Regions from separate parts of the Homo sapiens genome. Here regions 1 and 3 are each linked to region 2. The links come from fine-mapping of genetic effects on gene expression. A gene starts in region 2. Each other region holds a variant in brackets. All regions are shown on one strand. Distances are from middle to middle. Region 1 has its middle 110 kb from the start of USP31. Region 2 holds the start of USP31 (ubiquitin specific peptidase 31). Region 3 has its middle 16 kb from the start of SCNN1B.

Region 1 (8,183 bases), 110 kb after region 2:
ACCCTGATCTGATCAGTCAGCAGCCATTTGCATCGAGGCAAGAACCTTAACCAACAAAAAGATTACAACTTGCTGAAGATTCAGATGGTTGTTATCACGTTTTTTGCAATAAAGTATTCTTAAATTCAGGTATGTATATTTTTAAAAGACATAATGCTATCACACACTTAATAGACTACAGTATAATATAAATATAACTTTGTTGTTGTTGTTGTTTGTTTGCCTGTTTCAGACAGTCTCATTCTGTTGCCGGGGCTGGAGTGCAGTGGCATGATCACAGCTCACTGCAGCCTTGACCTTCTGGGCTCAAGTGAACCCCCCATCTCAGTCTCCTGAGTAGCTGGGACTACAGGTATGTGTGACTATGCTTGGCTAATTACATTTTTTTTTTTTTTTTGTAGAGACAGGGTCTTTGTATGTTGCCCAGGCTGGTCTCGAACTCCTGGCCTCAAGCAATCCTCCTGCCTTGGCTTCCAAAGTGTTGGGATTATAGGAGTGAACCACTGTGTCCAGCCCATTATAAGTTTTATATGCCCTGGGAAATAAAAAAAAAGCATGCGACTTGTTTTGTTGCAATATTCGCTTTGTTGTGGTTGCCTGGAACTGAGCCCATGATATCTCTGAGGTATGGCTGTATTTAGAAATGCATATTTAGCACCCTTTTCAGTTGCTCACAGAATACTTCCAAAGGATTATTAGTCACTGAGGGTGGTAACGGTCTGTCTTGTTTACATGCTGAAATCGCTCAGAAATGCATTCAGATGAAAGTAACAAGAAATTCAACCACAATGGCTTATACAAATATGAGTCTTTTGTTTGTTTGTTTGTTTGTTTGGAGACAGGTTCTTGCTCTGTCACCCAGGCTGGAGTGCAGTGGTGCAATCTTGGCTCATTGCAGCCTCAAACTCCTGGGCCCAAGTGATTCTCCCTCGTCAGCCTCCTGAGCAGCTGGGACTACAGGCCTGTACCACCGTGCCTTGCTAATTAAAAAAAAAATTTAGAGATGGTGTCTTGCTATGCTTCCCAGGCTGGTCTTGAACTCCTGGCCTCAAGTGATCCACCTGCCTCGGCCTCCCAGAGTGCTGGGATCACAGGCATGAGCCACTGCACCTGGGTAATTTTATTTTTTCTCTTCATATATGAAGTCTGGAGGCAGGCACCTTTGGCCTTAGTTCAGATGCTCAACAATGTCAAAGCAAATATTTCTGGGATTCTTTGGCCTTTTCACATTAGCAGTCAAGGCAGGAAGGAGGAGAGGGGAGACAGGGCAGCATCAATAGCAGAAAAGCAAAAGCAAAACGCTTTTTTGAGACCCCTGCCACCTGCCCCTTCTACTTATATTTGGGTCATGGTCACTTCTGGCTGGAAAGTAGATGGGAAAAAGAGGGTTGGAAATGGAATGGAAGGCAGGTCACCAACTAACAATATCTGCCAGACAGTCCCTGGCATAAGCAGGAGGTATCTCCATAGCTCTTTATAGACATCTGTTAAATGCATATGGTAGAATATTCAGGAATATTCAGTGCTTCTCCTTTTACAGAACAAGACATCCATGCTCTTAAGTGTAGGCATTTGAATTTTTTTGGTCAATGAAATGTGCACAGGAATGGCTTTAAGAGCCATGCTCTCTTTCCTCCACCTCTGTGATCACAGAAGCACATGTCGAGATGGAACTTCCATTGGCTTGAGTCCCTGAGTGACTCTAAAAAGAAGAACTCCCAGCTGACTGCTCAGAAACATGTAGCATGAGCAGGGACCAATCTTTGTTATTGAAGCCACTGAGATTTTTTTTGGTCGTTTGTTACTGCAGCCTAACCTGACCTACCCTGACTGTTGCAATGCTGTGTACCAGGTTATAAAGAAGTCCGTAACAAATTCTCCAAGTTACGAGTTTATAAATTATATTTCCTGATCTCATTAACAGCAAGAGTTTGCCTAAATTAAGACAAATGATAGCTACTTGGAAATTAAAGAATGTAAAAAGTAACCTTTTATCAAGGTGGAAATCAATACTGAAAGAGTGGGCTATTTAGACATTTAAGACAATGAAACCCACTGTCTAAAAATACATATGAGGGGGTGGGACTAAAGTTATTCTTAGCAAAATCCATATTTGAAAGCTGTTATTATTAAAATAAATATGGTTATTGAGAATAATTGAATTAAGAATTCAAAATAAGTAGAAAATGAACAGCAAAATAAAAGTAAAGTGAAAGGAAGCAATTAATAGAGATGAGAGCAAACATTAATCACAAAACAAAAAGTTGGTGGAGGTGATTAATCAAATCAAGAATCAGAACTTTGAAGTGATGAATAAAATAGACAAATCTCTGGAAAGTTTAATTCCCCCTGACACAAAAGGAAACACAGATATTCAGTGTAAGGCATGAGAAAAGGACAGCATACCTTGGCACAACGTTTTTGGTGAGTGGTTTGACACACCTGTCAAAATATCTAACGTGCATGCCTTGAAAATGTGATGAATATATAAATGTTGGATTGAACTGAATGAGCTTTTGAAGGCTTATGCAAAAATATTACTTTTTTGTGGGATGTTGGGCCCCTGAACTTGCTGAACAGGGTATGAGGTGGGATCCTTCTTCAACAGCATTCAGAGGAGGATGCATCTCAATCATTCTGGTCCTGCAAATGGGCCACATGTTTTGGTCTCCATGATCCTGTAGATCCAGTACAAGGGGGACGGTCTTGGCTATCCCACTTCCCTTCCTTCTTCCTCTTCCAGAAAGTTCTGCTGGGTTGTCCTCATGCTTTAAAAGATAAAATTATTCCCAGGATCCCCAGCACCCATGGACTCTATGGGTGGTTACAGTGATGCCTTATTCATTCACTAAATTGTCTCTGGTCTCTGATGCCTCCACAGAAGCTTCTTGTGTCAATTTGCCTCTTCTCTTGCTGTAAATCAGAGCCTGTTTCTGAGCTCAGGCTCAAGCTCCCACCTCTTTCACCATTTTGCCTTAGTCTTAGAAGAATTAGCATTTGCAGCAGGAAGGCTGGGGCAATTCTGAGCTCTGGATCTCAGTTTGCCCTTTGCAGCTCCATCTCCAATGGGAAGATTTCCTCTTGAATGCCCAGAATCCTAGAATGCAAGGTACAAATACATCCAGGCTCCTGGCCTAGAGTAGATCTTGACCATTGGAATTCATGGCCAGAAAGAAATGACAGACTATTCATTCATTTGTGCATGTTTACATTTATTTGTTTACTCATTCATTCGCTCAAAAATATTTATTTGTGCAGCTACTTTGTTCTGGGTGTTTTTCTAGACACTGGGGATTCAGAAGTGAAAGCAAGAGGGAAAAATCCTTGCCCTCCTAGGGCTCACATTTTGGAAGGGGAGATACACAATAAACGCAATAAATAGGTCAACTGAAATATATGTCAAATAGTAGTAAGATCCATAGAGAAAAATATGGATGAAGGATAGAGAGGGTGAGTTGGTTGCAATTTTAAATAGGGCAGTTAGAGGCCTCCCTGACAGGTGACATTCGAATAAAGGCACAAAGAATGTGAATGAGTGAGCTGTGCAGATTTCTGAGGGAGACATATTATAGGTAGTGGTAACAACAAATGAAAAGCCCTAAAGAGGAAGCATTGTGAAGACTATTCGAGAAAACAGCAAAGAGCTCAGTTTAGATGGAGCTGAATGAGTGAAGGGCAGTGTCATTGGAGCTGTAGTCATAGGTAATATCAGGATGGAGGGCATTGTCAGATGGAAACTTGGCTTTTTTCTGAGCGAGCTGGGAGCTACAGAAAGGTTCTGAGATGGGGAGGGACAGGGCCTTCCAGTGGTTGATAGGTTGGGAACAGACTGCGGTAAAGCCCAGATAAGTGCAGGCAGCCAGTTAAGAGGCTTCTGCAATGACCTAGATGAGAGGTGATAGTGGCTTGGCCCTGGATGATGGCACAGAGGTGATGAGAAGTGGCTAGATTCCAGGGATACCAAAGGCAGTGCTGTGGGGATGGGTGTTAGGGAGAAAGAGGAGTTAGAAAGATGCCAATGCCAACTTTGAACATCAAGAACCTGTGCCTTCTATAGGAAACCACACAAGATAACATGATCTCTCATAACTCCTCTTCCTCTCTGAGGACTTGCATGAGATCATCTCCAAAAGCTGTTCCCTGGATCAGGGTAAGTCTCCCCCCAGAGGGCTCTGCTTCCCATTGTTGGACCAAAAAACAGAATAGGAGGAGTGCACAAAGTGAGCCTGGCTCATCTAAATTCTGCCTCAGTCCCCTTCTCTCTTCAGTGACAGCAAAGAAACATCATTGTATAACCCACTCAATGAAAAACAATATTTAATTAGGGCTGAGAGAGTTAGACAAGCAAACAATTAAATGTTCTATTACGATCAGTCTTGAGCCATTTAAGCTTCAGTTCAATAAGGCATCATTATACAGGTCTAATAGAAATGAAAATATAAATAGTGCAGTTTTATGTTGCATTTCAACCATTTCCTTGGCCTTGCAAATCTAAAGTTTGTTTGACCATGGCAGATGAAGGCTCCCAGCCACAAGGATGATTGAGTTGCATCCTCCTCCAAATGTTGCTGGAGAAGGGTCTCACTTCATCCCCTGTCCAGCACATTCAGGGACCGAAATATCTCAAAAAAAAAAAGTAATGTTTTTGCATAAGCCTTCATATTTGAGAATCTCATTCTGTTCAATCTAACATTTATGTAGTCATGATAAAGGGATTTAGCACAGACCTGATGGAGGCAGAAGGCA[A/G]GCATATCTACCAGTGGCTAGGGAAGCAGGAGAGGAATCTGTCAGTTAAGCTGGCTTGAACCAACACAACAGGGATGTTTTCATCTTATTCTTGATATCTGAGTAGCCACACGAGTATCCTGTCTGGGAGGAAAGAGAAGTAGCTTAAAAGAAAACCCTGGATGTCTTGAGAGATGCTGGATTATAGAATAAATATGTCTAATAAAATTCCCCTAGTTGCTCAGCTTTGAGGATTTGGAAATAACTTCAGACTGTTTCATGAAGGCATTGCTTCACTGCAATTGGGAACATACCTTCTCAGGGCACCACAATCACAGGAGAGGTCTTTGGGATGAAGATACCATCCATCTCTGAGGTCTGAGTCCCTGCAGCCAGGACTCCTGCCCAGGCCTTTTGGAACATGGAAGAACAAACTCATGTCACCTCTTCCTGGAACCCTCTCAACATCTTTCTTCCTGTCTTGAGGCATCCCAGTCTCCTCTCTGGATTACTCAGTGTGTCATGAGGATATGGTTTGGAGATAGTCTTAATCTAAGCCAGGTCTTTGGTGTTGTGAAAAATGGAAAACCCAACCCAAATTGGTTTAAACCTTTTGACTCATGCAATTTTTTCTGTAAAGGGCCAGATAGCTAATATTTTAAATGTTAGATTGATCTGTCACAACTACTCAACCCTGTCATTGTAGTGCAAAAGCAGCCATGGACAATAAGTAAATGAACAAACAGGTATGGTTGAGTTCTGATAAAAGCTTATTTATGAAAACAAGTTATAAGCCAGGATTGGGCCATGAGTTGTGATTTGCTGACCAATCTCTGATCTAGAGCACTGTTGCAGGCTGGTCTCTTTAGAATGCTGTAGTGGAGTTAGAGGGCAAAAAGTTTTGAGGAGAGTAACACTTGTGAAAAGAAAATGAGAAGAGACAGGGTTGTGCTGGAGGAGCTGTAAAACCAAATTGCAGACCTCACAAGGTCTCTGCCAGCCTAGCAGGGAGCTCTGGAGCAAAGGATGCTGATATAGTTTTGCTGTGTCCCCACCCAAATCTCAACTTGAATTGTAATAATCTCAAAGTATCAAGGGTGGGGCCAGGTTGAGATAATTGAATCATGGGGGTGGTTTCCCCCGTACTATTCTCGTGGTAGTGAATAAATCTCATGAGATCTGATAGTTTTATAAATGGGAATTCCCCTGCACAAGCTCTCTTGACTGTCACCATGTAAAAAGTCCCTTTTCTCTTCTTTCATCTTCTGCCACGATTGTGAGGCCTCCCCAGCCACGTGGAACTGTGATTGCATTAAACCTCTTTTATTTATAAATTACCAGTCTCAGATATGTCTTTATTAGCAGCACGAGAATATACTAATACAGATGGCCATTACAGAAGTCCTCATTGGGCAGAAATGGCCAGGTCCTAGTACTCCATCTTGCTCAGTCACTAGCCAGGGGCCACCCCAAGAAGATTATGCCTTGGTTCACAAGCCGAGCATCCTGAAGTTGCTGCCAGTTGGAGGCTGTCAGTTATCTGCACTCCTTGATGCTGGGCTGTGTGTTTTCTCTCTAAGGGGGATTTGAACAGTGCATTGCCATGTACTTCCACTAGATCAAGGAGTAAACACAGGGGGAAGGAGCCAAGGAAGAAGACTCGCAGTCACTTCCTTTGGAGTAGGACTTTGGCATGTCCCTAGAATGGGGCGTAAGGTTTATATTTGGGACAAATGCCTTTTGGTAGAAAAACAGTATGATTTTGCCTAGAACATCCTTTCCCTTGAGAACCCATGGTAATCTTCAGCAGCAGAACAAGAAGTCAGAGGCCCTGAGTTCCGGCCAAACTCATCGTGGCCACCATATTTGAGGTTAATCAAGCTCATTTTGTTCAGTTTTATTTCATTTTTGAGATGGAGTCTCGCTATTTTGCCCAGGCTGGTCTCAAACTCCTGGACTAAAGTGATCCTCCTGTCTCAGCCTCCTGAATAGCTGGGATTACAGGCATGTGACACCATGCAAAGCTAGTTTCATTTGTAGTAAGCAAACTGTTGATTATAATTTGCCTTCCCATGTGGTTTTCTCCATAGCCAAGAATACGCTGACCATTGGGATTGAGTAAGCAATTATATTTCTCATTGTAAACAAATACTTTGGAATTATAGTTTACACAGCAGCCTCAGTTTCATGTGAGTCCACCTCAGAGAAGTGAATACTTTGTGAGGGGATAGACAACATATCAGCCTAATCAGCTGAGAACTGGACTGTGAACCTTGGGGATTTACCAAAGCAAATGCCACCCTATAAGGATTTTTGGAACTCAGGAAGGCTGCCTCCCTTAGAAAGTCCCCCATCTTGCCAAGCTCTTTTTTATACCCTCTTCATTGCAAATATGTGAAAAGTTGTTCCAGTAGACGACAACCACCAAATCTTACAAGACATGAAAACACCCGTCATTCACAAACATCTGTAACACTCTGAAGGTTAATGCAGAGACAGATAGCCAAATCCCCCTGCAGTGGGTCTGAAAGGCACATGGCTCCCAGCTAAAGACTCTATTTCCCTGACTCTCTTGCAGCTAGCTGAATGTAGCAATGTATCTAAATTCTAACCAGTGGGATGTGGGAATAAGCAGTGGGTACATCTTTTTATTTGTTTTTCTAATTTTTTTCAACTTTTATTTTAGATTCCAGGGATACTTGTCCAGGTTTGTTACAAAGATATGTTGTGTGTTGCCCAGTTTTGGCATACAATTGAACTTGTCACCCAGGAAATGAGCATAGTACCCAATAGGTAATTTTATTTTTTTTGAGACAAGGTCTTACTCCAATGACCCAGGCTGGAGTGCAGTGGTGCGATCTTGGCTCACTGCTGCCTCAACCTCTCAGGCTAAAGTGATTCTCCCACCTCAGCCTTCTGGGTAGCTGGGTCTACAGGTGTGTGCCACCATGCCTGGCTAATTTTTTGTACTTTTAGTGGAGACAGGGTTTTGCCATGTTGCCCAGGCTGGTCTCAAACTCCTGGATTCAAACAATCAGCCCATTTTGGCCTCCCAAAGTGCTGGGATTATAGGCATGAGCCACCACACCTGGCCCCAATAGGTAATTTTTCAACCCTTGCCCCTCTCACTCTCTCTCCACTCTTGCATCCCCCCATATCTATTGTTTCCATCTTTATGTCCATATGTTGCGTGCATCTTCTGACTTATGACCTGACAGGGAGAGCAGCATACCCTCCTCACTTCCTCTTTTCCTTTTCTCCTGGCCAGGATGTAGATGTGATGGTAGGACCTGAAGCAGCCATCTTGGGTCACAAGAAGGAAGTCACTTGGTGAGATGGGCAGAGCGACAAGACGGAAGTAGCAGCCACCACACCAATCACGGACTGCTGGTCCAGACTTTTCATGACAGAGAACTTAATTTCTAACCTTTAAAGCCACTGTTATTCTGCATCCCTCT
Region 2 (8,183 bases):
AAATCGCTAATTAAAAGGTATTCCTAGTTGTTTTCTTGATTGCAAACAGCAGAAACTGACACTGGTTTGTTTCCCCAATAAAGGATTTACAGGAAACCTATCAGGTTAGCTCACAGAAAGAACAGAGCCAGAGAAACAGGCTTGGGCAGAAACCCAGGGACACAGACACCAGTAAGAACTTGCCACTAGAGTAGCAGCTGGACACTTGCTGCTACCACCCCCACACTGTACACCACCGTACTGCCACACTGCTAAATATATAGCTGCTAGATTCATTAATTCACTGCATTATCTCCAACGAACCGTGTATCAATACTTCTAGAGCCAAAGTCTAGGTAGGAACATATAGTTGGTCTTGCTCTGTCACCCAGGCTGGAGGGCAGTGGCACGATCATAGCTCATTGCAGCCTCCACCTCCTAGGCTCAAGTAATCCTTCCGCCTCAGCCTCCTGAGTAGCTGGGACTACAGAAGTGCACCACCACACCAGGCTTATTTATTTATTTTTTTAGAGACGGGATCTCGTGATGTTGCCCAGCCTGGTCTCAAACTCTTCCCGTCTCTGTCTGCCTGTGCTGAGATTACAGGCATGAGCCACTGCACCCGGCGGTGGTCTTTTTTAGGTCATGTTCCTGGGCTCTAGCTTCCAGGGGTAGGAAGGGGAATACCTGCTCCCTGCCACCCTACCCAGTTTTCATAGTGGGATCTTGAGTGGTCCTGCCTAATTTGGTATCCCTTGCAGACAGGAAGTTGGTTGAGATGTTGGATAGCAGAGAGACTGGCACATGATGTTCAACCTTACTCATACAAACAAAAAGTGCATTAATATGCCATCTTTTGTTCATCAAACTTGTCAATGTGAAAAAGACTGGAAAACTCAACAGTATGTTGGGATTGGGAAATGTGCATTTCCCATTAGTTGCTGACAGGATAAAACCTTTCTGGGGGTCAGCTTGACAATAGGTGTCATATATGGAATACGCATACCCTTTGATCCAAGGTTTCAGCCTAAGGAGATAGCTACATGATGGACAAGGTATAGGTCATGATAATATTCACTGCACTGTTGTTTCTAATTTACGTTTCCCGAGCTTAGGGGTAAGGGGTGGTACAGAGAGGGACAATGAAAGATTCACTACAGAATGTTCAAGGTGAGTCTTTAAGAATGATCATCTGAACATTCCAATGAGGAATTTTTTCAAGCCTGTGTCAAACTTTGAGGCTCAGTGGAGACCTATAAGACCTGTAAGCTTAGTGAGAGGGGCCCAGACTGGGAAGGCAGTTCTTAGGTATCCCACCAAGAAGTTCAGATATTGTTTAGAGGCCGGGCGCGGTGCCTCATGCCTGTAATCCCAGCACTTCGGGAGGCTGAGACAGGTGGATCACTTGAGGTCAGGAGTTCGAGACCAGCCTGGCCAACATGGTGAAACCCCGTCTCTACTAAAAATACAAAAATTAGGGCAACACGCTCGGGTCCCCTTCTACGCTGTGGAAGCTTTATTCTTTTGCTCTTCACAATAAATCTTGCTGCTGCTCACAAAACAAAACAAAACAAAAAACAAAAAACAAAAATTAGCCAGGTGTGCTGGCAAGTGCCTGTAATCCCAGCTACTCAGGAGTCTGAGGCAGGAGAATTGCTTGAACCCAGGAGATGGGGGTTGCAGGTGAGCTGAGATCCCGCCACTGCACTCCAGCCTGGTTGTTAGAGTGAGACTCCATCACACACACATACACACACACACACACACACACACACACACACACACACACGACATTGTTTAGGTATAAAGTTGCCAAATAATCAACCTGTTATATAATGGCTACCTTACTGGGTACCGAATAATGAGTAAGATGGGTCTCTACTGGGTTGAAGCCCACATATTAGTGAAGGTGATGATTGTAAACTGAATTGCAATATGGTCAAGTCAGTGTCATGAATGAGAGGTGCCAAGAGGGCCTGTGGAAGGGACATCTCCTGGAGGGGGTGATATCTAAGGTGGGACTTTAAGGATGAGGGGAAGTTAGCTAAGTAGAAAGGTTCTAAGTTAGCTAAGGAAAGGTTCAAGGGAGAGGGAACGGCTCCAGCAAAGGCCCTCGAGTCTAGATCAAACTGCCCAGAAGTTGAGGGCCATTGCATTCACATTTTAGTGTGAATAATCAGATGGCTTTCTTCCTGGTGTCCAGATAAGAATTTTGACTAAGAGGAGAGTGGAGCCGATTAGGGACAGTGCAGAGCACCCTGGAGATGTCATCATAGAGCCCTACTTACATTGGGGAGGGAGGTCAAAGGTAAAAACCATTTACTTTGAAACGTGGTGTAAGGTGGCCTTCATGTTTTAAAAAGGAGGAAGGGCTCTCCCTTCTCTGATTTCTCTCTTCTGCCTCAGGACTCAGACTAGCCCTTTTAGCAGAGGGGAGCCTATAGAGAGGAGGTCATATACTAGTTGATTTTGGACTAAAGGCATCCCAAAGATGTACTATTTTTTGCTCCCTGCACTATTTTTTTTTTAATGGAACCAACGTTTAAAAATAGGATTTCTGCCTTCTCTTAAAACATCAGATGATCTGGTAACGCTGAGCTCCTGTTCTCACATGGGAACAACTGGCTGGAGCTGAGTGGCAGCCACCTCTTTAGAAAGATGTTAATTTGAAGTCTGCTATAGTCCCCATCATTCCTTATATTTCCCCCAACACTGAGACCCAAGTCACTTGAAAGTCAATATGATGATTCAAACACCAGGATTCTTCACTCATTTGTGGGTTTGTGACCTGTGATATTTGTGGATTCGTGACCTTTGGTTTAGAGGTCAAGTATAGGGGTTGTAAATAAAACTTGGGTTTGAATCAGATAAGAACTGTACCAATCTCAAAGACGGTGAATTAAAGATTAAAGAAAATATTGCATGCTTGGCATAATGTGTGGAACACAACAGCTATTGTAAACACCCAGTAGGAATGTAAGCTGCAAGAGGGCAGGTAGAAACCGTGCTAATTTAATCCGCTGGGGATATGACATTTGATTCTAATTTAATAGGTTTAATTCTTTGCAATATCCCCAGTAACTGCTGAATGAATGAGTGAGTGAATGAATGAATGGAATGATGAATGATGGGAGAGCCCGGAGGAGTTTTAAAGGCTGGAATGAAAAGGAAAGTAGTTATGATAACAGCGTTTCGCTGGGACTCCAAGGTGCAGCCAGGAAGAAAAGCCCGCTGGGACGTGCCAGGGTCTGTGACTGCGCTCCGCTGGCACCCAGAGGGTAGGTATCTGCAACGTCCCTTGGGAGCCAGACAGGGCTGACTTGCCCAGGACCTGTCAGGGCCATGTCCACCAGCTCTTGCACGGTCTGGTAACTGACAGCATCCTGATTCCTGCACGTTCCCGCCTCTGCCATCTGACCAGCAAAGACAGAGACCCACCCCGGGGATCCACCATCCAACGGGAGCCCAGCCTTTTCCTCCAAGCCGGGACGGCGCCCACACTAGACATGGCCTCCCTCGGGCTTCACGCAGCAGGACCGCGCCCGCAGCCTCCAGGCATCGCGTCCGGCTGGAGAGGCAGCTACCGTCCCACAGTGAACATGGCGGCCGAGGCGGCTTCAGCGCCGGGCGGGCGGCGCCGGGAGGCACGTCACGTGAGCGGCTCAGCTGGGCGGACCGCGCGCGCGCCCGCTGGCCCCGCCGGCCGCCGCTCGCTCGCTGGCTCGGCTGCGCTTTGAGGTGTGTGGGGCGTCGAGCCCCCGGGCCCGGTGAGGCGCGGCGCTGCGGGATGCGGCGGCGGCCGTGGCGGGGCCGCGGGCCGGGCGGGCGGGCGCGGTGATGAGTGTCTGCGGCCGCCGCCATGTCCAAGGTAACGGCGCCTGGGTCCGGGCCGCCGGCGGCGGCGAGCGGGAAGGAGAAGCGCTCCTTCAGCAAGCGGCTGTTTCGGAGCGGCCGCGCTGGCGGCGGCGGCGCGGGGGGCCCCGGGGCGTCCGGGCCGGCCGCGCCTTCCTCGCCCTCCTCGCCCTCCTCTGCACGCTCGGTGGGCAGCTTCATGAGCCGCGTTCTCAAGACGCTGTCCACGCTCTCGCACCTTAGCTCTGAGGGCGCCGCCCCAGACCGCGGCGGCCTCCGCAGCTGCTTCCCGCCCGGGCCGGCCGCCGCGCCCACGCCGCCGCCGTGCCCGCCGCCGCCCGCCTCTCCCGCGCCGCCCGCTTGCGCCGCCGAGCCGGTGCCCGGCGTGGCGGGGCTCCGCAACCACGGCAACACGTGCTTCATGAACGCCACGCTGCAGTGCCTCAGCAACACCGAGCTCTTCGCCGAGTACCTGGCGCTGGGCCAGTACCGGGCGGGGCGGCCCGAGCCCTCGCCTGACCCGGAGCAGCCTGCGGGCCGCGGCGCGCAGGGCCAGGGCGAGGTCACTGAGCAGCTGGCGCACCTGGTGCGGGCCCTCTGGACCCTGGAGTACACCCCGCAGCACAGCCGCGACTTCAAGGTGAGCCCGCGCGCCGCCGCGCCCCCACTGCACCCCGAGCCCCTGGGGCACCTGCCCGCCCAGGTCTTCCTTCCCTCGGTTCCTCTTGGCCCGGCAGGCTTCTGCATTGGTTGCTCCGAGTGGTCTGGGCAGTCGACCAGTGATTTTAAGGAGATTCATTCATTCATTCATTTATTCACTCACTCACTCACTCAAACATGTATTTATTGAGAACTTACTACATACGTGCCCATACTCTGTGATAATAGGCAATGGGAGTGACGTTGCAATGAACAAGACTATCCGCCTTCATGGAACTTGCATTTTTGTGGGGTGGGAGTGTTGAGCATGGGTTCAAATCCTGGTTCTGCCACTTACTAGCAATGTGACGTCGGGTAAGTTAAGCAGCCTCTCTGTTCTTACAGTTTCTTCATCTGGGGGACCTACTTTGTAAGGTGGTTGTGAGCTGCAAACAAGTTAATATATTAAATCGAACACTGTGGAATTACCCATATTTAACCGTTTTTTATTTACAGATTGGCACTTTTATAGGGTTCAACCTGATAAGTAAAATACTTCCATATCATGTGTATTTGCTGCTATTATTTTTGTTATTAAAGACTTGAAGAAGTTAACGAGATAATATCAGATAGTGGTTTGAAGAAAGAAAAACCTGCTGCTGTGATTGATGTGCTGACAGGCTACTTTTTATTTTTATTTTATTTTTAGAGACAGGGTCTTGCTCTGTTGCCCAGGCTGGAGTGCAGTGCTCACATAGCCTCAAACTCCTGGGCTCAAGCAATCCTCCCGCCTCACCTTCCAGAGTATTTAATAGCTGGGACTACAGACACACACCACCATACCTACCTATTTTTTATTTTTAAAACACTTTTGTAGAGACGGGGGTTTTGCTGTGTTGCCCAGACTGGTCTTGAACTCTTGTCCTCAAGCCACTCTCCCCGCTTTGGCCTCCCAAAGTGCTGGGATTACAGGGGTGAGCTATACATCCCTGGGGGTATGTATGGCCCTTGGCCAAGCCCTCCTTTGCTGTTTGCTGGTGGGGCTGCAAGTGTAGTGAGAGGGTGAGATTTGAGAGCCGAGTGGTGGGCTGGGACCGGATGGTATGGGACCATTTAGGATGCACTAAGAAATTGGGCGGTTACTCTAAGCAGAAGGGGAACATGATGTGAGATTGTGTAAGGGATACTTTCAGGTGGGACATGAATATGGTATTAAACAGCATGGAATCGGGCGGGGCGCAGTGGCTCATGCCTGTAATCCTAGCACTTTGGGAGGCCAAGGCGGGTGGATCACCTGAGGTCCGGGGGTTCGAGACCAGCCTGACCAACATGGAGAAACCCCATCTCTACTAAAAATACAAAATTAGACGGGCGTGGTGGTTCATGCCTGTTATCCTGGCTACTCAGGAGGCTGAGGCAGGAGAATTGCTTGAACCTGGGAGGCGGACGTTGCAGTGAGCCGAGATCGTGCCATTGCACTCCAGCCTGGGCAACAGGAAACTCTATCTGTAAAAACAAAACAAAACAAAAACAGCGTGAAGTCACACAGGGAGAAGGTTAATTCCTTTTTTTTTTTCCTATCCTAATCTTGCCCAGGACGAAGTCTCAGCTTGATGTTAGCCTGTTTTTAATACCTCTTGTTCACCCCCCACCCATTTTTTTTTTTTTTTTTAAACAGAACAAGCTTCAAGTCTAGAAGCATTGGCAGGTAACAGTAGCTAGAATTTAATAAGGTTATGTTTTTATTGGGTTTCCATTTGTCTTCAATTCATGGCAAAAGGTACTGGTTTCCCATTGGTGCTATAAAGCTTCTTTATAACAACATTTAAGTAAAAGGAGATGATTTTGTTAAAATATGAAAAGGTCATCTAGCTGAGGATCTGCTTTGTTAAGGTCCTGCTTTCTTGCTGACGAACTACATGGCCAGTGTGCATCTCTCCCCGTTTAATACTTTTTACTTACATCTTATGCTGCTCAATGCTGTTTTTCTTGGAAAAAAATCGTTGCTGTTTGATCTTGGCAATTTGAATGGAAGTACTTGACTGAGATAGGGACTGGAAAAAAAGATCTATGTCAGTGATCTCAAAATTATTATTATTATTATTATTTTTGAGATGGAGTCTCACTCTGTCGCCCAGGCTGGAGGGCAGTGGCCTGATCTCGGCCCACTGCAACCTCTGCCTCCTGTGTTCAATCAAGCAATTCTCCTGTCTCAGCCTCCCAGGTAGCTGGGACTACAGGCGCCCGCTACATGCCCAGTTAATTTTTGATCCACCTGCCTCGGCCTCCCCAAGTGCTGAGATTACAGGCGTGAGCCACCGTGCCCAGCTGAGATCTCAAAATTAGAAAGGGAGAATGATCAGGAGAACTGACTACTGTAGGTCCACCCCCCGCCCCCCACCCCACACTGCCCCTCTTTGCTTACAATTGCCTGTAAGTAGCCACAGCATTTGTAAACTTTTCGAGGTCAGAGCCTAGTATTTAAGTTTGGTTTTCTCCTCTTTTCCAAAATGTGAAAATCAGTTTCTACAGCATCTTTGTATGTGAACATTTCCATTGCTTTTTATGAGTTTGTGTTCACTTTTTTATCCATTAAGCTGTGAACAGAAATGGGTCAATAATTCTAGAAGTACAGAGACTGATTTATAGGCATGCTTTGGCAGACATGAACAGATTCTTAGAGGCCTGGCTTTTTAAAAGTAATCTCCTGAACCTTTAGTAGGTTTCACTCTACATTCATTCATTCACCTCCCATTTATTGAAGGCTTACTTAATCAGTTAGGAATGCCTTCAGCCCAAGAAAGGAAAATCCCTAATGATAGTGCCTTAAGCAATGAAAACGTTGCAATTGGCAATTGGCACACACAGTGATTCCGGAGGTGGATGGTTCTATGGTTCAGTGGCTCGTTGGGCCCAACAAGGATTCAGACCATTTCTGTATTTCCACCTGTTGTCTTTTTAGCTATCATTGGCTTTTTGTTCTTAGGTTTGTCACCTCATGGTTGTCCAGTGATGGCAGCCACTGCACCTGGCATTCTACCCAGGACGGCAGGAAGTCATTAGGGAAATAAAAATTCTTCCAGAAGCCCCCTCAGCAGGCTTCTGCTGATATTTCATTGGCTATAACCATGTCAATTGGCTGTCACGGAGGCTGGAGGGTGGGCATTTGGGTTTTCCTGTCTTCACAGAGGAGATGAGTAAAGGAGGGGTTTACCTCCCAGGGAGCTATGAAGAGCTGAGTCGAGTAGGATCTAGGAAGTTCCCTGAGACAGCGCTTCTCATGCGTCAGTGTGCACATAATTCACCTGGGGATCTTGCTACAAAGGAAATTGAGATTCGGTAGAGCTGGAGCGGTGCCCAAGATTCTGCATTTCTAACAAGCTCCCTGGTGATGCCAGTGCTTTTGGCTCAAGGACCATCCTGTGTATAGCAGGCATCAAGGAACAAGGAAAGCATTACCAAAAAGGTGGCTCCTGAGCAGTGTTCTGAAAGATGAATAGAAATTTGCAGGGCAAGGAAGTGGTGGAGTTGCATGAAAGGGCGTGTGGTTTTGGGGAATAGACATTTAGTGGCTGGCTGCACCATAGAGAGCAGTGGGGGTGCAGGAAGCCTGGGAGAAGAGTGTTGGAAACTCACTGTGAAGGGCTTCGTGAGCTATGCTGGTTTGGATTTCATCCTCTGCAAGTTGAAAATCCAGAGGTGATTTTTAAGCA
Region 3 (8,172 bases), 140 kb before region 2:
AAGTCAACAGTTATGGGGCCTTAAAAGCTAGAGTTTAGGAGGGGTGCTATGGCTCGTGCCTGTAATCCCGGCACTTGGAATGCCAAGGCAAGAGGATTGCTTGAGTCCAGGCGTTTGAGAACAGCCTGGGCAACGTAGCAAGACCTGGTCTCTACAACAAACAGAAAAAGTAGCTAGACATGGTGGTGCACACGTGTAGTCCCAGCTACTCGGGAGGCTGAGGTGGGAGAATCACTTGAGCCCAGGAGGTTGAGGCTGCAGTGAGCCATGATCAGCGCCACTGCACTCCAGCCTGGTGACAGAGTGAAACCCTGACTCCAAAAGAAACAAAACCTAGAGTTTGATCACATAAGTGTTGCTAATAATAATTTCAATAACAATAATAGTAGCAGCAGCAAGTGGCAAGTGCTTACACTTAGGTAGCACTTAACTGTGCCAGCCATCGTCTTAAACATTTTCTATCTACTAACTCTCTTAATCCTCACAATAGCCCAGTGAGACAGAGACTATCGGCCTCATTTTATAGGGGAAAAAAACGGAGACGTGCAGATTTCTACTGGGTGCATGTTCTAAAAGTCAAATCCATTGTCTGTTGTTTTCCCCCAGCCTGTTTCTTGCCTTTTTACTTCATTTGTGAGGTTTTGATCATATTGAAATGTTACATATTGGGTCGGGTGCAGTGACTCATGCCTGTAATCCCAGCACTTTGGGAGGCCGAGGTGGGTGGATCATTTGAGATCAGGAGTTCGAGACCAGCCTGGCCAACATGGTGAAACCCCGTCTCTACTAAAAATACAAAAATTAACCAGGCGTGGTGGCGCATGCCTGTAATCCCAGCTACTCAGGAGGCTGAGGCAGGAGAATCGCTTGAATCCCAGAGGCAGAGGTTGCAGTGAGCCGAGATCGTGCCACTGCACTCCAGCCTAAGTGACAGAGTGAGACTCTGCCTCAAAAAAAAAAAAAAAAAAAAGTTAAATATTGGAGTAGTAAACAGTAAAGCTGTGGGGATGCCTACAGTAGGTCCATTTGATTCCATCCTTTCTCTCTGGTTCTATATTTGAGGTTGGGGAGGGATTTCTTTTTTTTTTTCTTTGAGATAGGGTCTCAAGCTGTCACTAAGGCTAGAGTGCAGTGATGTGACCACAGCTCAGTGCAGCCTCAAACTCCTGGGCTTAATCGATCCTCCAGCTTCAGCCTCCTGAGTATCCAGGACTACACACCACCATGCCCAGCTAATTTTTAAAAATATTTTGTAGAGATGGGATCTTGCTACATTGCCCAGGCTGGTCTGAGGCTTCTGGCCTCATGCAATCCTCCTGTCTTAGCCTCCCAAAGCACTGGGATTACAGGCATGAGCTACCACACGCAGCCTCCACTGGTTTAGAGTCTCCACACAGAGCCAGAATAATCCTTCTATGACTCAAGCCATATTAAAGAAACAGAGTGACACTCCTCAGTCATCTTCGAAGGGTGCTAGGTGTGGCCGGTAGGCTCTAAGGTGCCCCCAGTGATTCCGCCTGCTGGTGTCAACACCCCTGTATGGGGAGGCTGATCTAGTGGCTTGCTTCTAATCATCGAAGATGGCAAGGGTGATGGGATGTCATTTCTGTGATTAGGCTATGTAAGTTGCTCACTGCTGTCTTGCTAGCACCCTCCCTTGCTGCCTTTGATGAAGCAAGTTACTATGCTGGGAGGGTCACATGGCAAGAAACTGAGAGTGGCTTCCGGGCAAAAACCAGACAGGAACTGAGGCCCCGAGTCCAACAACTCTTGAGGAACTGAATCCTGCTAACAACCACCTTTCCCCAGTCGAGCCTTTAAATGAGACCCAAGTCCTAGCAGACATTCACTCTATCACCCAGGCTAGAGTGCAGTGGTGTGATCAGAGCTCACTGGAGCCTTGACCTCCCCATCTCAAGCAATCCTCCTACCTCAGCTTCCTGAGTAGCTGGGACCACAGGTGGGTACCACCACACCTGGCTCATTTTTTACAATTATTTTTTGTAGAGGCAGGGTTTCGCCATGTTGCTCAGGCTGGTCTTAAACTGCTGGGCTCAAGCAATCCTCCCACCTTGGCCTCCCAAAGTGCTGAGATTTACAGGTGTGAGCCACTGCACCTGGCCCCAGCAGACACCTTGATCACAGCACCATGAGAGACCACAAAGCAGAGCTCACAGCTAAGCCTTGCTGGGGTTCCTGACTGGCAGAAACTGTCACGTAATAAATGAGTAATGTTTTAAGCCACTAAGTGTGGTAATTTGCTACGTGGCAATAGTCAGCTAATACACTAGGGAACTGACTTATTATTTTGAAAATTTGTAATTAAAAGGAGAGAGTCAAGAATGTATTCTGGCTGTCCTATACAAATGGAATCTGAGGGTAGTCATATAACTGATACGGGGGCAGTTTTCTTTTATAGATATATCCTAGCTAATAAAAGAAGAAAAAAAAATCCATACTTTGCAACTTTTTTGTTTTTTGAGACAGGGTCTAGACAGGGTCTCACTTTGTCACACAGGCTGGAGTAAAGTGGCGCAATGTCAGCTCACTGCAGCCTCAACCAGGGCTCAAGTGATGCTTCCACCTCAGCCCACCAAGCAGCTGGGACTACAGGCACACACCACCATGCCCAGCTAATTTTTTTTTTTTTTTGTAGAGATGGGGTTTCACCATGTTGCCCAGGATAGTCCTGAACTCCTGGGCTCAAGCAATCAGCCTACCTCGGCTTCCCAAAATGCTGGGATTACAGGTGTGAGTCACTGCTTCAACCCAGGAGTTTGGAGACCAGCCTGGGCTACATAGCGAGACCCCATCTCTTAAAAAAAAAAAAAAGGAAACGCTACTTAGTTACAATACCATCATGTCACAAAACAAAATGAACCCCAGATCTTTTCTATTTTTAGACTGAGTGTCACTCTGTCATTCAGGCTGGATTGTGGTGGTATAATCATAGCTCACTGGAGCCTCAACCTCCCCGGGCTCAGGTGATCCTCCTTCCTCATCCTCCAGGAGGTGGATCTGTAGGCCACCCCCTGGGACTACAGGTGCGTGCTATCATGGCTGGCTAATTTTTGTAGTATTATTTTTTACTGTTTGTAGTGACAGGGATTTGCTCTATTGCCCAGGCTGGTCTTGAACTCCTAGGCTCAAATGATCCCCCCACCTCAGCCTCCCAAAGTGTTGGGATTACAGGATCTTTATTAACATGTAATTCCTCATATTAGCATTTCCCCGGTCACCCTCAAAATGTCTTTTACCATTGGTTTAAACCGAGACCCAGTCAATGTTCACAAATTGCATTTTATCATATCTCTCTCTTTTTTAAAAAAATTAATTTTTGGCAGGGCACGGTGGCTCATGCCTGTAATCCCAGCACTTTGGGAGGCTGAGGCAGGCAGATTACCTGAAGTCAGGAGTTTGAGATCAGCCTGGCTAACAT[G/A]GCAAAACCCCATCACTACTAAAAATATAAAAATTAGCCGGGCGTGGTGGTAGGTGCCTGTAATTCCAGCTACTTGGGAGGCTGAGGCAAGAGAACCACTTGAACCCTGGAGGCGGAGGTTGCAGTGAGTGGAGATCACCCCATTGTACTCCAGCCTGGGTGACAAGAGCAAAACTCTGTCTCAAAAAAAAAAAAAACAACCCAGCAACAACAACAACAGCAACAACAACAACATCAACAACAACAACAACAAAAAACTAAATAAAATTTACTTTTAATAGAGACGGGCTCTTTCTGTGTTGCCAGGGCTGGTCTTGAACTCCTGGGTTCAAGCAATAGCCTGCCTCAGCCTCCCAAAGTGCTGGGATTACATGTGTGAGCCACTTGTAATCAGGCTCCTGGCTTGATTCCATCTCTTAAGTCTTTCTAAATCTAGACTAGCTTCCCTTCCCGTTCTCTCTCCTTTTTCCAGGTCATTGAGCTGTTGAAGCAACTAGGACCATTGTCTTGCTGGTAGAATGGTCTACCTTCTAGAGTTTGATTGATTTCTTGAGGTGTATTTAATTTGTCCTGCTGTCTGCTGTATTTCCTATAAACTAGAAGCTAAATCTATGGTTTGATCAGATTTTGGCTACACGTTATCGGCAAGAATTCTTCCTGGGTGGTGTTATAAGTATGCTCTTGCATCACACCAGAAAGCTCAAAATGAAAGGCTGTCTCATTAGCGAAGCTAAGATTGATTCATGGGTTCAGGTGGTGACAACCAGATCCTTCCATTGTGAAGTCGTTTCTTCTCTCAGAACCAGTAAGTTCTCTATGGCCTGATGACTTGGCTGCTTGTGAATCACAGGAACCCAGGAGGCGGAGGTTAAATATCCAGCCTCCCTTGAACCTTTCACCTTGCAGTTTCAGCATCCATTGATGATCATTGTCTGAGTCAATCATTTTGTTCGGAGTTGCAAAGTTCTAATGCTCTCATTCCTTTGACATTTGTGAGCAGGCATTCTTCCTTAAAGAAGAGCTTCTTTCCCTCACTGACTAGGGCAGAATAAATTCTTTCCTTGTTATCACTACTATTTTTAGAGTAAGGACTTGATGCAACAGCTGCCTCCAATGATGACAAATAGTTCCTCCTTTTCTGTTTTCTCTTTCTCTTTTAAAATATCATTATGAATTCATTGATCTTTAAAAATAGATTTAATATGTTTCATTCAATGGTATTTATTATTTTAAGACAGTGTCTCGCTCTGTTGCCCAGGCTGGAGTGCAGTGGCTCGATCTTGGCTCACTGCAACTTCTGCCTCCTGGGTTCAAGCGATTCTCATTCCTCACCCTCCCAAGTAGCTGGGATTATAGGCATGCACTACCATGCCCAGCTAATTCACGTGGTTTTAGTAGAGATGGAGTTTCGCCATGTTGCCCAGCCTGGTCTTGAACTCCTGACCTCCAGTGATCCTTCTGCCTTGGCCTCCCAAAGTGTTGGGATTATAGGCGTGAGCCACTGTGCCCAGACTATTATTGTATTTTTTATTATTTTTTTTTATTATTATTGTTTTTTTACTCTTGCTAATTAAAAATTTTCTGTACAGATAGAGTCTTGCTATGTTGGCCAGGCTGTTCTTCAACTCCCGGGCTCAAGTGAGTCTCCTGCTTTGGCCTGCCCAAGTGCTAGGATTACACATATAAGCCACCATGCCTGGCCCATTTATTATTTTTTAAAACATATTTTTTTAGGCTGGGTGCACTAGTTCATGCCTGTAATCTCAGCACTTTGGGAGCCTGAGGCAGAAGGATCACTTGAGGCCATGAGTTTGAGACCAGCCTGGACAACATAGCGAGGCCCTACCTCTACAAAAAATAAAAAATTAGCTGGGTGTGGTGGTGCACACCTGTAGTCCCAGCTACTGGGGAGGCTGAGACAAGAGGATAGCTTGAGCCCAGGAGACTGAGGATGCAGTGAGCAATGATCACATCATGGCATTCCAGCCTGGGTGACAGAGTGAGAGTCTTAACTTCTTAACGTCTAACATGACCATATGGTACCTTTGACAAAAGTGAGAAACCAATGTTCATACATTACTATTAACCAAACTCTAGACTTTATTTAAATGTTACCAGTTTCTCCACTAATGTGTTTTTTCTGTTCCAGGATTATTCATTCTTTCTTTTTGATACTAAAAAATGGTCCAAATTGAGCAAGTGGGAGCCCTGCCAGGCTACCTCTGTGTCCTTCTGATGGGACCATGAACTCGCATAGTCTTTGATAAGCTTCTTTGCTTTCCAGCCCAACAAGATGCCCCAGGCTCATTTGGATTTGATTTGTTTGCCAACATTTAAAAAGTAGCAGATCGAACTTGAAAATCAGGATTTTCTATTTCTCCTGAGAAGTCAGCAGATCTGGCAACACTGAACTTGCATTCCTTGGCAGAAATTGGCTGAAAGTTACTTAGTAGGGCTGCCCCATTTAGACATGGGGTGTGCTCTCCAGTTTGACATGGTCCTCACCTCTCCCTAGAACTGGTTCACTCCATGCTTTTGTATGCTCTGTCTGACTGCTGTAGGCATCTGAGGTTGCTCCCTCTGGGTTAAGAGCACAGACTTTAGTGTTTGTCTGCCCTTCCCTCTGCCTCCTAGCTTTCTTTCTATTTATGGAGTGCCTTCGTTGTGCCAAACACTATGTGAGGTGCTGGAGTTCTAACAAGACCAACATGTGGGTTGTTGACCTGTTTGATCTTAGATCCATGCTCTGCCATTTTATTTTATTTATTTTCTTAATTTATTTTTATTTATTTATTTTTTTGAGATGGAGTCTTGCTCTGTTGCCCAGGCTGGAGTGCAGTGGCACTGTCTCCGCTCACTGCAATCTCCTCCTCCTGGGTTCAAGCAATTCTTCTACCTCAGCCTCCCGAGTAGCTGGGATTATAGGCACGTGCCACCATACCTGGCTAATTTTTGTACTTTTAGTAGGCACAGGTTTTCGCCATGTTGGCCAGGCTGGTCTTGAACTCCTGACCTCAGGTGATCCGCCCACCTCAGCCATCCCAAATGTTGGGATTACAGGTGCGAGCCACTGCACTCGGCCATCCCTAACATTTCTAATGCAAGGTACATTTCCCAAGCTCTACTGCCAACTGGTCAATTGACTTCTATCTAAATTGGGCCAAAAAGAGGCACTGGCAGGAGATTGGATGGTGGGACAAGGGGAGGAGCCAGGGCGGTCCTTCGTTCCCCAAATTCAGAGAACATTTCCCAACAGAGGCTGCACCTCCTCCATGGTTTAGCTTCTCACTGGGAAGCTCCTGCTGTGGTTCTAGCTCCTTCTAGGTGGACCAAGTTCTGAGCATGACCCAGCTCTGGGCATCGGTAACACCACATCCTCCCTGTGTCCCTCCAGCCCTACCTGTGAGAGTAGTTTCCTGATGTTGCTGAGTCCAGGATTGCTTCACCATCTCCGGCTTGGCTTCTCAGCTGTTGAATCATTTGTGTAATTAATTTCTTGTATCAAATTTCCTCTATTTGAATTGCCTACAATGGTTTTGTTTTTCAGGGACAATGCAGACAATCCCTGATTTACAATGGTTCAATTTAGGATTTTCTGACTTTACCATGGTGCAAATGCCATATATATTCAGTAGAAATTGTACCTGGAGTACCTATACAACCATTCTGTTTTTCACTTTCAGTGCAATATTCAATACATTACACAAGACATTCAACACCTTCTTATAAATTAGGCTTGGTGTTAGATGATTTTGCCCAATTGTAGGCTAAAGTAAGTGTCCTTCTTATTTTTGGAGATGGAGTCTTGCTCTGTTGCCTAGGCTGGAGTGCAGTGTCGTGATCTTGGGTCACTGCAACATCTGCCTCTCGAGTTCAAGAGATCCTCATATCTCAGCCTCCCGAGTAGCTGGGACTACAGGCATGTGCCACCGCACCTGGCTAATTTTTGTCTTTTTGGTAGAGATGGGGTTTCACCATGTTGGCCAGGCTGGTCTTCAACTCCTGACCTCAAGTGATCCACCTGCCTCAGCCTCCCAACGTCCTGGGATTACAGGCGTGAGCCACTGTGCCCAGCTTAACGTAAGTGTTCTGAGCTTAAGGGGAGCTAGACTAAGCTATGATGTTTGGTAGGTCAGGTATATCAAATGCATTTCAACTTGATGCAGGATAGGCAAGCCCCCAAGTTGGGGCTTAGCCTAGGAGGGTTCTTGGCTTTGTCCAGGAGAGAATTCAAGGTCAAGCTGGTAGTGTTAAACAGCAACTTATATTGAAGCCACAGCACACAGCAGCAGCAGAAGGACTGTTTCTTGCAGAGCAGGGCTACCTCATAGGCAGTGTGCCCAGAAAAGCAGCTCAGAGGCAGGGCTGTACTTGTATTTACACCTACTTTTAATTACATACAAATCAAGAGGCAGTTTATGCAGATGTTTCTAGAAAAAGTGGTGGTAACTTCTGGGTTGTCAGGTTGTTGCCATGGAAGGGGGCAGGCGTTGCCATGGCAATAGTAAACTGACATGGCACACTAGTGGGTGTGTCTTATGGAAAGTTGCTTCTGCTCTGGCCCTGTTTTAGCTAGTTCTCAATTTGGTCCAGTGTCCAAGCCCCACATCTGGAATGGAGTCATGCCTCCTACCTCAATTAAGATATTTTCAACTCATGATGGGTTTATCAGGATGTAACCCCATCATAAACCAAGGAGGAGTATTCATAGATTCCTTTCTTTATCTGTACTT

What was found. PIP is the estimated chance that this variant, and not a neighbour inherited with it, causes the effect. A credible set is the group of variants that fine-mapping cannot tell apart.
Region 1: its variant is the best candidate, but not a certain one, in a credible set for the expression of USP31 in T cells (TOPMed, PIP 0.51).
Region 3: its variant is the best candidate, but not a certain one, in a credible set for the expression of USP31 in esophagus muscle (GTEx, PIP 0.61).

The regions. Positions count from the first base shown.
Region 1 is chr16:23,032,929-23,041,111 of GRCh38, reverse strand. No RefSeq gene overlaps it. Among named protein-coding and RNA genes, the nearest start is that of USP31, 110 kb to the left of the region's middle. The variant A/G (reference allele first, on the strand shown) is at 4,747.
Region 2 is chr16:23,144,926-23,153,108 of GRCh38, reverse strand. It overlaps USP31 (ubiquitin specific peptidase 31), which reads left to right and starts at 3,657. Exons shown (of 16, transcript NM_020718.4): 1 at 3,657-4,471. The coding sequence starts at 3,839. RefSeq lists an enhancer at 3,257-3,476 and silencers at 3,657-3,756, 3,907-3,956, 4,057-4,156, 4,287-4,516.
Region 3 is chr16:23,282,472-23,290,643 of GRCh38, reverse strand. It overlaps a transcript of SCNN1B not described here. Among named protein-coding and RNA genes, the nearest start is that of SCNN1B, 16 kb to the left of the region's middle. The variant G/A (reference allele first, on the strand shown) is at 3,440.